3 separate regions of the Homo sapiens genome follow, and regions 1 and 2 are each linked to region 3. Evidence: fine-mapped expression QTL. A gene starts in region 3. Each other region holds a variant in brackets. All regions are shown on one strand. Distances are from middle to middle.

Region 1 (4,239 bases), 66 kb before region 3:
CCAAAACAATCCTAAGCAAAAAGAACAAAGCTGAAGGCATTACGCTACCTGACTTCAAACTATATTACAAGGCTACAGTAACCAAAACAGCATGGTACTGGTACCAAAACAGAGATATAGACCAATGGAACAGAACAGAGCCCTCGGAAATAATACCACACATCTACAACCATCCAATCTTTGACAAACCTGACAAAAACAAGAAATGGGGAAAGGATTCCCTATTTAATAAATGGTGCCGGGAAAACTGGCTAGCCGTATGTAGAAAGCTGAAACTGGATCCCTTCCTTACACCTTATACAAAAATCAATTCAAGATGGATTAAAGACTTAAATGTTAGACCTAAAACCATAAAAACCCTAGAAGAAAACCTAGGCAATACCATTCAGGACATAGGCATGGGCAAAGACTTCATGTCTAAAACACCAAAAGCAATGGCAACAAAAGCCAAAATTGACAAATGGGATCTAATTAAACTAAAGAGCTTCTGCACAGCAAAAGAAACTACATCAGAGTGAACAGGCAACCTACAGAATGAGAGAAAAGTTTTGCAATCTACCCATCTGACAAAGTGCTAATATCTAGAATCTACAAAGAACTCAAACAAATTTACAAGAAAAAAAAACAAACAACCCCACCAAAAAGTGGGCAAAGGATATGAACAGACATTTCGCAAAAGAAGACATTTATGCAGCCAACAGACACATGAAAAAATGCTCATCATCACTGGCCATCAGAGAAATGCAAATCAAAACCACAATGAGATACATCTCACACCAGTTAGAATGGCCATCATTAAAAAGTCAGGAAACAGAAGGTGCTGGACAGAATGTGGAGACACAGGAACACTTTTGCACTGTTGGTGGGACTGTAAACTAGTGCAACCATTATGGAAGACAGTGTGGCGATTCCTCAAGGATCTAGAACTAGAAATACCATCTGACCCAGCCATCCCATTACTGGGTATATACCCAAAGGATTATAAATCATGCTGCTATAAAGACACATGCACACGTATGTTTACTGCGGCACTATTCACAATAGCAAAGACTTGGAACCAACCCCAATGTCCATCAATGATAGACTGGATTAAGAAAATGTGGCACATATACACCATGGAATACTATGCAGCCATAAAAAAGGATGAGTTCATATCCTTTGTAGGGACATGGATGAAGCTGGAAATCATCATTCTCAGCAAACTATTGCAAGGACAAAAAACCAAACACCGCATGTTCTCAGTCGTCGGTGGGAACTGAACAATGAGAACACTTGGACACAGGAAGGGGAACATCACACACCGGGGCCTGTCGTGGGGTTGGGGGAGGGGGAGGGATAGCATTAGGAGATATACCTAATGTAAATGACGAGTTAATCGGTGCAGCACACCAACTTGGCGCATGTATACATACGTAACAAACCTGCACACTTTGCACATGTACCCTAGAACTTAAAGTATAATAAAAAAAAAAAAAGAAATACTACTTTCAATTTTTTGAGGGAAATAATTTTCAACCTAAAATTCTATCCTCAGCCTAATTATCAAGAAAGAATAAAAGACAAAAAAATCATTTTAAGGCATTTAAGCATTCAAACAAATTACTTTTCTTAGGCAGTTACTTTCTTTACTTAGGCAGTTAGCGGGGGCAGGGAGGACAAAGAAAAAGGAAACCATGGGAGGACCACGCAGGACCCTAGCTGAGAACACAGGAAAGGGAAGTCTCAAGATAAAAGCTGGAAAGCAACCTGTGCAGCAAACAGTTCCACAGGGAACAGAAGGACCATTTAATGTAACCCTTGATAACTTAAAAAAGCTTGAGGAGAAGACAAAGGCAGGTAATTTAAAGGGATGTGTGGGGTATGTGAGATGGGGAAGCCAAGAACTCTAGAACAAAAACAAATAGCTAAAAAGAAAGGAAATGTAATACCAGTTGTGAGTTCCAGGACTTCCGAGCTGATCAAGAAAATGTACCACAGAACAGGCTTTATCGAGCAG[T/C]GTTTGGAAAGGGTTGCCTGATAGGGGTGGTCCTTCATAGCAGGTGACCTTCCAGAGACAGCAGCTGCAAGGCTACCACCAGATGGGGAGGAGGGCAAGGAAACTCTCAGTAAAGAGGGGAACCTGAGAGGGGGCTTAAGTGCCTAGGGGATGGCATTCAGCAGTTAAGTGTGAGGGATCTGAGTCAGAGAATTCAGAAAGGCAGCAGTGGTTTTGGGGTCCTTTAATCTACAGAGCTTGCCTTATCTATGGCCAGTAGATGTTAGGGTGCAGTTTCATGGGATATATAAAGCAGAAATGGCTAAAAATATACGTAGTGGGCTATGTTTAAAGTAACTGGATGTGTCAGAATTTGAGTTTGATGCCAGAGGTCTTTGCGCTAACAGTCCCTGTCTAGTGTACAAAAGTAAACACCTAGGCTCTGTACTATTCTGATAGAGACATCTTATTGTAAACAGTACCCTGATTCTCAGCTTTTAGAATACCAGACAAAATCTGATGGACTCAATTATGGCCAAGAAATCCAAGTAAAATCTATCCTTGATGTAAAAGTAAAACATAAATGTAATTTAAAAGTATGAACGATAAAAGCTGGAACAGTATAAGGAGCACAGCTTAGAGAAGGGATAAAAATATTAGTATCTTCCTCTTACACAATAGGGGGTAAAGGGATTGTGGAATAATAAATATTAAAAGCAATGACATGACTACATGGAGGGAGAAAGTGCCCATGTGAACATCTGATACATATAAAAATATAAATATTTATATCAAGATATAGATTGTGGTATACTTTGAAACTAATGGGAAATACAGCTAGAAGAGTTTTAATAATTGCCTCTGGAGAGTAGGAATAATGATGCGTAATAGTGTGACAGGAGACAGTTGCTTTCATTGACAAGTTTTTCAAAACTATTTGATTTCCAAACTTGTTTATGTATTAACTTTATTTACTCATTAAAAACCAAAACAACAGTAAGTATCTTTGACAATAACTCTTGCTTACCAAAAAAATAAGCCAATTTTGGTATCTCCTTCAAAAACAAGGACTCCTGTTGGTGTTAGTCCCAAACTATAGTCATTCCCATCTCTAGCCTAATTTAAGGGGAGAAAAATGTGTTAGCTTTATTTGTACAAAACAGGTTTCACATTGACACAACTTTTAAATTTTATTTTTGTATTGAATTGTATTAATTATATACAGGCTAATATTAATATATGAGATGTTTTCAACAATTAGAGTATCCATAATAATATTCTCAGAAAAATTTATGCATATATTTTTATTTCTAGTCATTGAAACACTAGAGTTTTAAAGTGTATCTTCATTGAAAGTGGGTAGTTACACTCCCACTACAAACAAAGCTGTTTCCACATTCTTCCCATATTATACTTACCACTTAAATCATGTATTTTGGAAAAGACTGCTGATACGGTTTGGCTCTATGTCTACACCCAAATCTTGTGTCATATTGTAATCCCCAGTATTGGAGGAGGGGCCTGGTGGGAGGTGACTGAATCATGGAGACGGACTTCCCCCTTGCTGTTCTCATGATAGTGAATGAGTTCTCACAAGATCTGGTTGTCTGAAAGTGTGTAGCACCTCCCTCTTTGCTCTCTCTCCCTCCTGCCAGCCATGTACAGATGTGCCTGTTTGCCCTTCACGTTGCCCAATGATTATAAGTTTCCTGAGGCCTCCTGAGAGGGAGAAGCCTGTACAGCCTGCAAAACCATGAGCCAATTGAACCTCTTTATAAATTTATGTCTTTATAGCAGTGCGAGAATGAACTAATACAACCGCCTTTCTGGAAAAATGTTACTAGTTAAACTAGAAATAACTTAAATCACTACAAAGCTGTTCTAAAGTTTATCAAAGTCTTTAAGCTATAAATCTTCAACTTTGCATCCTGAATTATTTTAACAGAGCCTACTCAGTGTAAGTCGTATAACAGGAAGTAAAAAGGATAACAAATGGCTCAAAAGCTTAAAACAATTTTTTATAGCAAAAAAATAAAATAAAATAAAATAACAGCTTAAAAGGACCAAGTACCTTGTTAGGGATGTTGGTTGCTTCTCTTCTTTCTTATAATGAACCTTTCTGTGAGATTCTAGTCATTTGGTATTTAATCTCAAACTTTTTAACCATACATCCAAAGTACCCAGTGCTAGCTTATGCAAACTCCATGCCCTCCCTCATACTGAAAAATTCCACAGTCACTGCGAACCTCCAAAGAATAAATTTT
Region 2 (4,239 bases), 270 kb before region 3:
AAGGGAATACCCCCATGTTTCCATTTCATTTTATAAGACCGTCTAGGCTGGCTGGAGACTGTCCTGCCGGCCTTGGAGAAGCAAGCCACTGTGGTATGAGCTGCCTATGGAGACGGCACATGGCAGGGGCCTGCGGGCAACTTGTAGAATCCGAGCACCTGTGTCCTACACCCACAAGGAACTAAATTCTACCAACAATTAGGGAGCCTGGAAGAGGACCCCCACGCCTCAGAAGAGGTCACAGCCCCAGCTGACACCTTGAGTGGAGTCTTGTGGGACTCTGAGCAGAGGACTCAGCTGAGGCTCCAATTCTGGACCCATGGAAACTATGGAATGACAAATGTATGTTGTTTTAACCTGCTAACTTTGTGATTATTATACAGTAATAAAAAAAACTAATACAAACAGCACTGACATCACAAAATCCAGCAAAATAACAATATTTTTATTAATTAAACTGCCTGACATACCTCTAGAATACCTTCTACTTTTTTGTTTGCTGTATACTTTTTCTTGTCATATGCCAATGATTTTGAAACATTCCTATAGAGAATAAAAAATAATTTAGTCTTTCCTTTAGCATGGTTAATGAAAATGTCTTTTGTTCTGACAGCTTAGAAGAGGTTCTTTCAGCTTCACAACTACATGAGTTTTTTTTTTTTTCTTTTTACTTTAAGTTCTGGGATACATGTGCAGAACATGCAGGTTATGTAGGTATACATGTGCCATGGTGGTTTGCTGCACCTATCGACCCATCATCTAGGTTTTAAGCCCCACATGCATTAGGTATTTGTCCTAATGCTCTCCCTCCCCTTGCCCCCCGCCCCCCAAAAGGCCCCAGCATGTGATGTTCCCCTCCCTGTGTCCATGCGTTCTCATTGTTCAACTCCCACTTATGAGTGAGAATATGTGGTGTCTGGTTTTCTGTTCCTGTGTTTGCTGAGAGTGATGGTTTCCAGCTTCATCGATGTCCCTGCAAAGGACATGAACTCATTCTTTTTTATGGCTGCATAGTATTCCATGGTGTATATGTGCCACATTTTCTTTATCCAGTCTATCTTTGATGGGCATTTGGGTTGGTTCCATGTCTTTGCTATTGTAAATAGTGCTGCAATAAACATACATGTGCATGTGACTACATGGCATTTCTAGTAATGAAAGTTTTGGGATTACTGCCAAATTTAGGAAACCTCTATTGAGCTTCACTGTACAAGCTGTAAGATCTGAAAGACTTTTCTGGCCCAGTTTCTAGCTTCTAGCTCTCACACACTTGTGTCAGGTGCCACAGGACAGGTTCGCATCAGGATCCACCCCTGGCCCTGCACCTCACATCACGATGTTCGCACGTCAGCACAGTGGGCGGTTGGAGTACTCCTGCAGCCAGCGATAATCGCCACATGCCGCGTGACTCCAAACCACACCAACACATACCACTATTCCCACCTAACCCAGCCCAACACAAACTCCCTCAGCTAGAGGCCGAAAATGCCCATGGCCACTCCAGCTGCACCCAGCATAAGAGGAAGCAGGACAATGGGAAAGTCTAGTGAAAAGAGGTAGTGATCTTAACTGACGTGGTTGTGATAGCTTTCTTTCGCAAATCTCATAAAGCCATGTGGCCGCAATGCAAGTGAGAGGCCCTGAGGTTTAAGCTCTGCTCGGAACACTCTCCCTGCCTGTACTACAGTCATCCCTCGGTATCCCTAGAGAAATGGTTCCATGACCCCCACCAAATACCAAAATCTGCAGATGCTCAAGTCCTTTACTTAAAATGGCACAGCATTTACATGTAACATCCTCCCGTACACTTTAAATCATCTCTAGATTACTTATAATACATAATACAATGTAAAGGCTACGCAAACAGTTGTTACATTGCATGTTTTAATTTGTATTGTTTTTATCATTGCATTGTTATTTTTCATTGGGTTTTTTTCCCGAATATTTTCATTCCGCAACGTTTCATTCTACATTGCTTGAATCTGCAGATGTAGAGCCCACAGTAGGCTAAGTATCCTAGCAAACAGCTCAAGCAGGGACTTTTGTAGCTCCGGGGATCAAGGCTGTGTTGTCACACTGAACTCAACACCAGTGATGTTATCCACATTAAGTAGGTGACGTAAATTTTGGGCAAGGATAGTGCAAGCTTTACCTTGCCGCACGGGAGAACTGGATCTGATGTCTATCACTTGCGAAAGGATTAAGTTGTATGACAGCTCAGCTCCCCTTTCACTCTCTTTCACTTCGCGATTGACTGACAATCACAAGGCTAAATGCTTGTGTTGTTTGGAAAATCTGTACAAAGGCTCCTCTCTCCTCCCCTGGGCTTTTGTCAGAAAGAAAGCTCGAAGTATA[A/G]CAATGGAAACGATGCAAGCAGAGATCTCTCACATCCCCGCCGGAGTTGAAATTATTTACCTAGAATCAGCAATCCAGATCTTATGCTGATTAGACCTTCCTAGGAAGCTATTCAGAAGCCACCTCAACACAGACTTGCTCCGTGAACCCCTGTGTACGGGAGGACCGGCACAGAAACAGCGGGAGCAGGGACACTGCTACGGCCAATGCCAAAGGAAGGTGGTCTGTGCCTAGCAGGGCTTACCTCGTCATACATGAACTGAAGCGTCAGGGCTGACTTGCCAACGCCTCCGCTGCCAACCATGATCACCTTGTGGAGGGCCAAGGAGCTCTGGCCCTTACTCTTGTTGGCAGCCATCTCGCTGGTCTTCTGAGGCTGTGACACACAGATGACCCACTGAAGAGCTGCTGATGACAAAGACAAAGACTTAGAGGCGATTTGCTTTCAACCTAGCTAAAACCAAATGTCATTCACATCCTCCATTAAAGCCTAACTAACCCAGACATTCCAACAGGAAAGTAATCCTTTCAGGCTCAGGGCAGACATGCGAGCCCTCCAACAACTCTGGAAGTCACTTACCCCAGCACAGCTGGGGCGAAGCCAAGGCTAGAGGGGAGAAACAGGAGCGCACACCCCACGCCCGCCTCACTGGGCAGGGTGGAGAGGACACCCAGTCACCAAAAATCATCAGACCCTCAGCAGGGCCTCACTGAGGCAGAGACCAAACCGCTCGTAGCTCCAGTTTCCTACCTCTCTGCTCGGTTCTCGGCTGCCGCGGAGAACAGCTTGGGACCTCAATCCCCAGCTCTTTAGCTTTACTCCTCGCTTTGCCCTCTTACCCTCTACCCCACAACACGCACACACTCACAACACGCTCACACACGCTCTCACATTCACACTCACAAACGGTCACTAACACACTCACACATGCCCACATTCACACACATGCTCACACTCACACACGCTCACATTCACACACACTCACGCTCTCACATTCACATTCACACATGCTCACACACTCGCACACACATTCACACATGCTCTTATTCACACACATTCACTCACATTCACACATTCACACTCGCTCACACACGCTCACATTAACTCACATTCACACACACGCTCACACTCATTTTCACACTCATGTTCTCACATTCACACATGCTCATGTTCTCACATTCAAACACACATATTCACACACTTGCTCTCACACGCTCTCACACACTATCACAGGCTCACACATGCTAGCACACGCTGTCATACATGCTCACATTCACACACAAGCTCACACACTATCACACACGCACTATCACACACACCCACATACACACTTTCACTCATAACACGTTCACAACGCTCTCACAACACTTTCAAATTTGTGCTCATGTACACTCACAAGCTCACATGCTCTCACAACACACACTCCATACACTATCACACACTTGTCCTCTCATAGGTGCACTCACGCTTTCACACACACACACAACTACACACTCACATACGCTCTAACGTTCACATGCTCATACCACACATACATGTTCATGCTCACACCACATACATGCTCTAACACATGCTCATATCACAGGCTCAGAGGCTCTAACATGCACATGCGTGTTCACATGCTCTCACACATACATGTTCACGCCACCACACACATGCTCTCACACACATGTTCACATGCTCACACCACACACAATCTCACATGCTGTAACACGTTCACAGAACACACACGCTCTCGCACATGCTCCCATGCACTCTTATGCTCTCATACACTTTCTCACACACACATATGCTCTCACACTCTTACACAGCCCCACACATCCCTCTGGTTGATTAAAGAAGTGAGTTCAAGAACAAATACCCCTTCATGACATGAGAGTTAA
Region 3 (4,239 bases):
ATGGGATACATGCACACACACAGACACGCTAAACAGACACACACGTAAACTGTTGAGATTCTCTCTGAAGAGGGGCATGTCAGAAGTCACAACAAGAATATATGGCTGGGTACAGTGGCTCATGTCTGTAATCCCAGCACTTTGGGAGGCTAAGGCGGAACTGTTGGAAGCCAGGAGTTCAAGACCTGCCTGGGCAACACAGCAAGACCCCACCTAATTTTTTTTTTTTTTTTGAGTCTCGCTCTGTTGCCCAGGCTGAAGTGCAGTGGCGCGATCTGGGCTCACTGCAAGATCTGCCTCCCGGGTTTACGCCATTCTTCTGCCTCAGCCTCCCAAGTAGCTGGGACTACAGGTGCCCGCCGCTACGACCGGCTAATTTTTTGTTATTTTTTTTAGTAGAGGCGGGGTTTCACCGTGTTAGCCAGGATAGTCTCCATCTCCTGACCTCGTGATCCGCCCGCCTCGGCCTCCCAAAGTGCTGGGATTACAGGCGTGAGCCACTGCGCCTGGCCTAATTTTTTTTAATGGAAAAAAAAAATAATATGAATGGATCACTAAAAGTTGTGGGTTTTTTTTTTTTTTAATGATTGTGAAAAAAGTTTTCTCATACTCACTTTTCCCCTCCCACCTGCACTCTTCCAATTGCGCTCTTCATGTTGCAGCCACTGGATTTTTGGCAACCACAAATCTGATCCCTGTTCTAAAATCTTTAATGGCCCTGGTCCTAGATGCAGCTCCTCCTACTTGCCTGACCCATCTGTCAGCCTACTCCCCTCTGTTTGCTCTGCTCTTGTACTCTTGCTGCTCGGCCGGAGAGTCTTTTTAATTCTGGACCATTTTTCATTAGCTGTTCCACCTTTCTGGATTGCTCTTTTTCCAGTTGACCTCTCTTCCACCCGCTCCCATTTCACTGGACTAACTTCAGACTTATAGTTGAAATGTCTTATTCTCAGAAAAGCAATCTCAGACTTGTGAGTCTAAATTCGACATCTCTTTCAGTACTCTTAGCCTTTTCTTTATAACAAAGAAATTGTAATTAAATATCTGTTAATTATTATCTTTTTTACTGACTACTTCCCCCACTCACACACAAGGACAAAGACTTCGTCTGGCTTGTTCACTACTTTGGCCCAACAGCTGGCTTAACCCGCATCTCGCCTGACACACTAGAATGACACAGTGGAATTTTTGGATGGTAGGTTTATGTGGCTTCCAAAAAACAGTAGTTTCTACTCTAGTTCCTAACTAGAAGGATTTCCTTTAGAATCATAAAATGCAAATTTAAGCAATCCTATCAGAAGTTGGTTAAAAAAAGTACCCAAAACCCAAAAGTTAGTCATGAAATATGTATACTCTTACATGACTGGTGGCCACAATATGGTTGGTTAATTGCTTTTTGATAAAGCAATATAACATACAGCAAATGCCATTTAAGGTAACACTATATTTTGTCCCAGTATTCCCAATAAAGAAAATGCAAGCGAGTAATTCAACAGCAGTTACGCATATCGTTTTCGAATAATGTTAACCTATTTTCTAAAGCCTGCACAGCATATTACATGCACAAATAATCCAACAAGGTTAACTAGAGCTCAGCAACGGGTTATGTTAGAAACTGAGTTAATGCAGTTGTGGGTTACATTACAAATGTACACGGTTATGGGAATTTTCCCCGTAATTCTTTAAAAACTTTTAATATTAGTCTAAAATATTGCCAAACGTTTTAAGAGTTGGGTCTCGCTCTTAGGTAGAATTCGAGTAACCACAGACACAATTAACATTTACACACCAAAGAACCCATCATTAGCACGACAACCGTCCCGGGTGGGGGCGGGGCGGGACCTTCAGACCTCGTCTTTCATGGGAACACACCTGCCTCTCCTTTCCCAAGAGACTGAAGTTTTTCTCAAATACAGGTTAGCTCGAAAAGTCCACCAAGACAGTGACACAAACTCAGTTCGTTTTTCCCCTTCCCTTGCGACTTTTGTCTCTCCCGCTGGACGGCAGCCCAGCGGACCAGCGAGGGGTACCCGCGGCTCGGGGAGCGCGTCCGCTCGGCAAACATTAACCCGGCTGCCCCGGGCCCTCCGCCCCGGCCCGTCGCGCGGTATCGACCGAAACTCGGCGGCCCTGCCTCATTGGCCGCCGCCGCCCCTCCCTCCGGCGGGATTAATGCCCTGCCGGCCCGACGAGAGAGGGGCCGGCCGCCCTAGGGTCTGGGTGCGGCCCCCGCCCGCCTCCCCGGGGACAAGGCCGCTACCGCAGGCGCGGGCGAGGAAGGGTCCACTCGGCTAGGAGCGCAGCGGACTGTACTGCGGCGCCGCCGCCGGGCCTCGCGCTTACCTGAGCTGGGGACGGCGCAGCCCCGGCGACCAGAGCGGGGAAGAGCCGAGCAAGGCTGAGAAAGGGGCGGCTCCTCGGTAGACGCCGAGAAATGGCGCCCACAACGAGCCCACCGGCTCTAATCCCCGGAGGACCCCGACCTCCCGCCCGTCCACCCCTTAAAGCTCCCTCCCAGCTCCGCCCCCAGGGCGGAGCGCTCCGCTCTTAAACGGGCGATGACACCGCCCCGGAAATTGGCCGGCGCGGCGACTGGAGAGAAACCGGCGAGGCCGGGCCCGGCCGGGCTGGAACTAGCGCCAGCAGCCGGGCGTCCGCGGCTGGTTTAAAGGGGCGCTGCCGAAACCCAGTTCCCGCTGCGGCCCTCCGCCCGCGGAGGAGGCGCCCGTCCGCAGACAGACCCCAGTTAGTCCTATCACGAAGGAGGCTGGTGGAGCTGGCTGCTAGATTCATTCATCCATTCGTTCAAGAGATTAAATCCTTCGCAAATACTTATTGAGAGCCTGTCACGTATTTCCTCCCTTTTTCTCCTTTGTAGGGATTAAAATACATTTAAATCTCTGCTGTTAAAGTGACTTTCACTCTACTGGGGAAACAGTAAACAAATAGGTGTCACAAGGTGATTAAGTGTAAATGAGGAAAAATAAAACTGGGAAAGAGAAATAAAAGATTACTGCTTAGCAGAGTGTGGTCAGGAGGGTACTCTAACAAGGTGACATTCAGTCCGTTCATTCTACAGGTAATTGATTGAAGTGCCTACTTACTGTGAGTTCTGTGTTCTAGACACGAGATACGACAGACAACCAAGACAGACAAAAATCCTTCCCGGAGTTTACGTTATAGCAGGAATATAAACGAGACATAAAATAAACGAGATAAATTAGTGAAATTAAATACTGTCAGACATTGGTAAATGCTAAAAAGAAAAGTACAAGTAGGGAATAACCACAGGCAGTGAGGGTTTGCGATTTTACATAGCAGGTCACAATAAGAAGGTGGCATTTGGCTGGGCGCGGTGGCTCACTCCTGTAATCCCAACACTTTGGGAGGCCGAGGCGGGCGGATCACGAGGTCAGGAGATCGAGACCAGCCTGGCCAACACTGTGAAACTCCGTCTCCACTAAAAATACAAAAATTAGCTGAGCCTGGTGGCGTCCGACTGTAGTCCCAGCTACTCAGGAGGCTGAGGCAGGGGAATCGCTCGAACCCGGGAGGCGGAAGTTGCAGTGAGCCCAGATCACGCCACTGCACTCCAGCCTGGCGACAAAGCCAGACTCAGTCTCAAAAAAAAAAAAAAAGGTAGCATTTGAATGAAGACCTAGAGGAGGTGTGGGAGGAACCCTGTGGCCATCTGGGGAGAACCGAAGGGAACAGCAAGGGCAAAAGGCCCTGCAAGGGGACAGGTCTGTCTTTTCAAGGAAGTCCAGTGTGGCTAGAAGTGAGGAAGCAAGAGGAAGAGGAGGTGACAGTCAGAGAGGAAAGGGGTAAGATGTAGGGCCTTGTGGGCCCTGGCTAGAGCTCTGAGAGAGGTGGGGGAGCCACTGGAAGGTGTTACCTTGAGGACCCTCTGCTTGCTGAAATGAAAAGAGACAAATACTCATTGAGCTTCTTCTCGGGATTTGGCACTGCCCACTCCTCCACCACCCCAAAACGTAGTAGACAGGCTTGGCAGCTCATCTCTGCCCCATGTGGTGTTGGCTGGGCAGCTCAACAGGTGCTGGAGCTGCCAAGGTGGTTTCACTGGTCTGTGTGGCATCTCCGCTGGGGTGGCTGCAAAGAACAGCTGAGTTCTGCCTGGGCTACTCTCTTGCAGATCCGCTGGTGTGGCAAAACAGTGAAAACAGAAGCTCTGAGGCCTATGAAGGGCTATGCCCAGCAGTCACGGAGCGTCCCTTCTGC

Which allele goes with the higher level. Positions count from the first base shown, and alleles are read on the strand shown. Sizes are in standard deviations (SD) of each study's normalised expression. Not every link is listed here.
In carriers of allele T in region 1, the expression in anterior cingulate cortex of the gene that starts at base 2,477 in region 3 tends to be higher than with C alone (small effect, 0.33 SD a copy in GTEx).

The links. PIP is the estimated chance that this variant, and not a neighbour inherited with it, causes the effect.
Region 1: its variant is the best candidate, but not a certain one, in a credible set for the expression of EPB41L5 in anterior cingulate cortex (GTEx, PIP 0.50).
Region 2: its variant is the best candidate, but not a certain one, in a credible set for the expression of EPB41L5 in blood mononuclear cells (TOPMed, PIP 0.55).

What each region holds. Positions count from the first base shown.
Region 1 is chr2:120,077,345-120,081,583 of GRCh38, reverse strand. EPB41L5 (erythrocyte membrane protein band 4.1 like 5) reads right to left here. Exons shown (of 25, transcript NM_020909.4): 10 at 3,003-3,091. Among named protein-coding and RNA genes, the nearest start is that of EPB41L5, 66 kb to the right of the region's middle. The variant T/C (reference allele first, on the strand shown) is at 1,997.
Region 2 is chr2:120,277,139-120,281,377 of GRCh38, reverse strand. RALB (RAS like proto-oncogene B) reads right to left here. Exons shown (of 5, transcript NM_002881.3): 2 at 2,600-2,760. The coding sequence starts at 2,713. Among named protein-coding and RNA genes, the nearest start is that of RALB, 26 kb to the right of the region's middle. The variant A/G (reference allele first, on the strand shown) is at 2,356.
Region 3 is chr2:120,011,315-120,015,553 of GRCh38, reverse strand. It overlaps EPB41L5 (erythrocyte membrane protein band 4.1 like 5), which reads right to left and starts at 2,477. Exons shown (of 25, transcript NM_020909.4): 1 at 2,344-2,477. It overlaps LOC107985817 (a long non-coding RNA gene), which reads right to left. Exons shown (of 4, transcript XR_001739205.2): 3 at 3,896-3,914; 4 at 2,850-3,161. RefSeq lists a silencer at 2,132-2,301.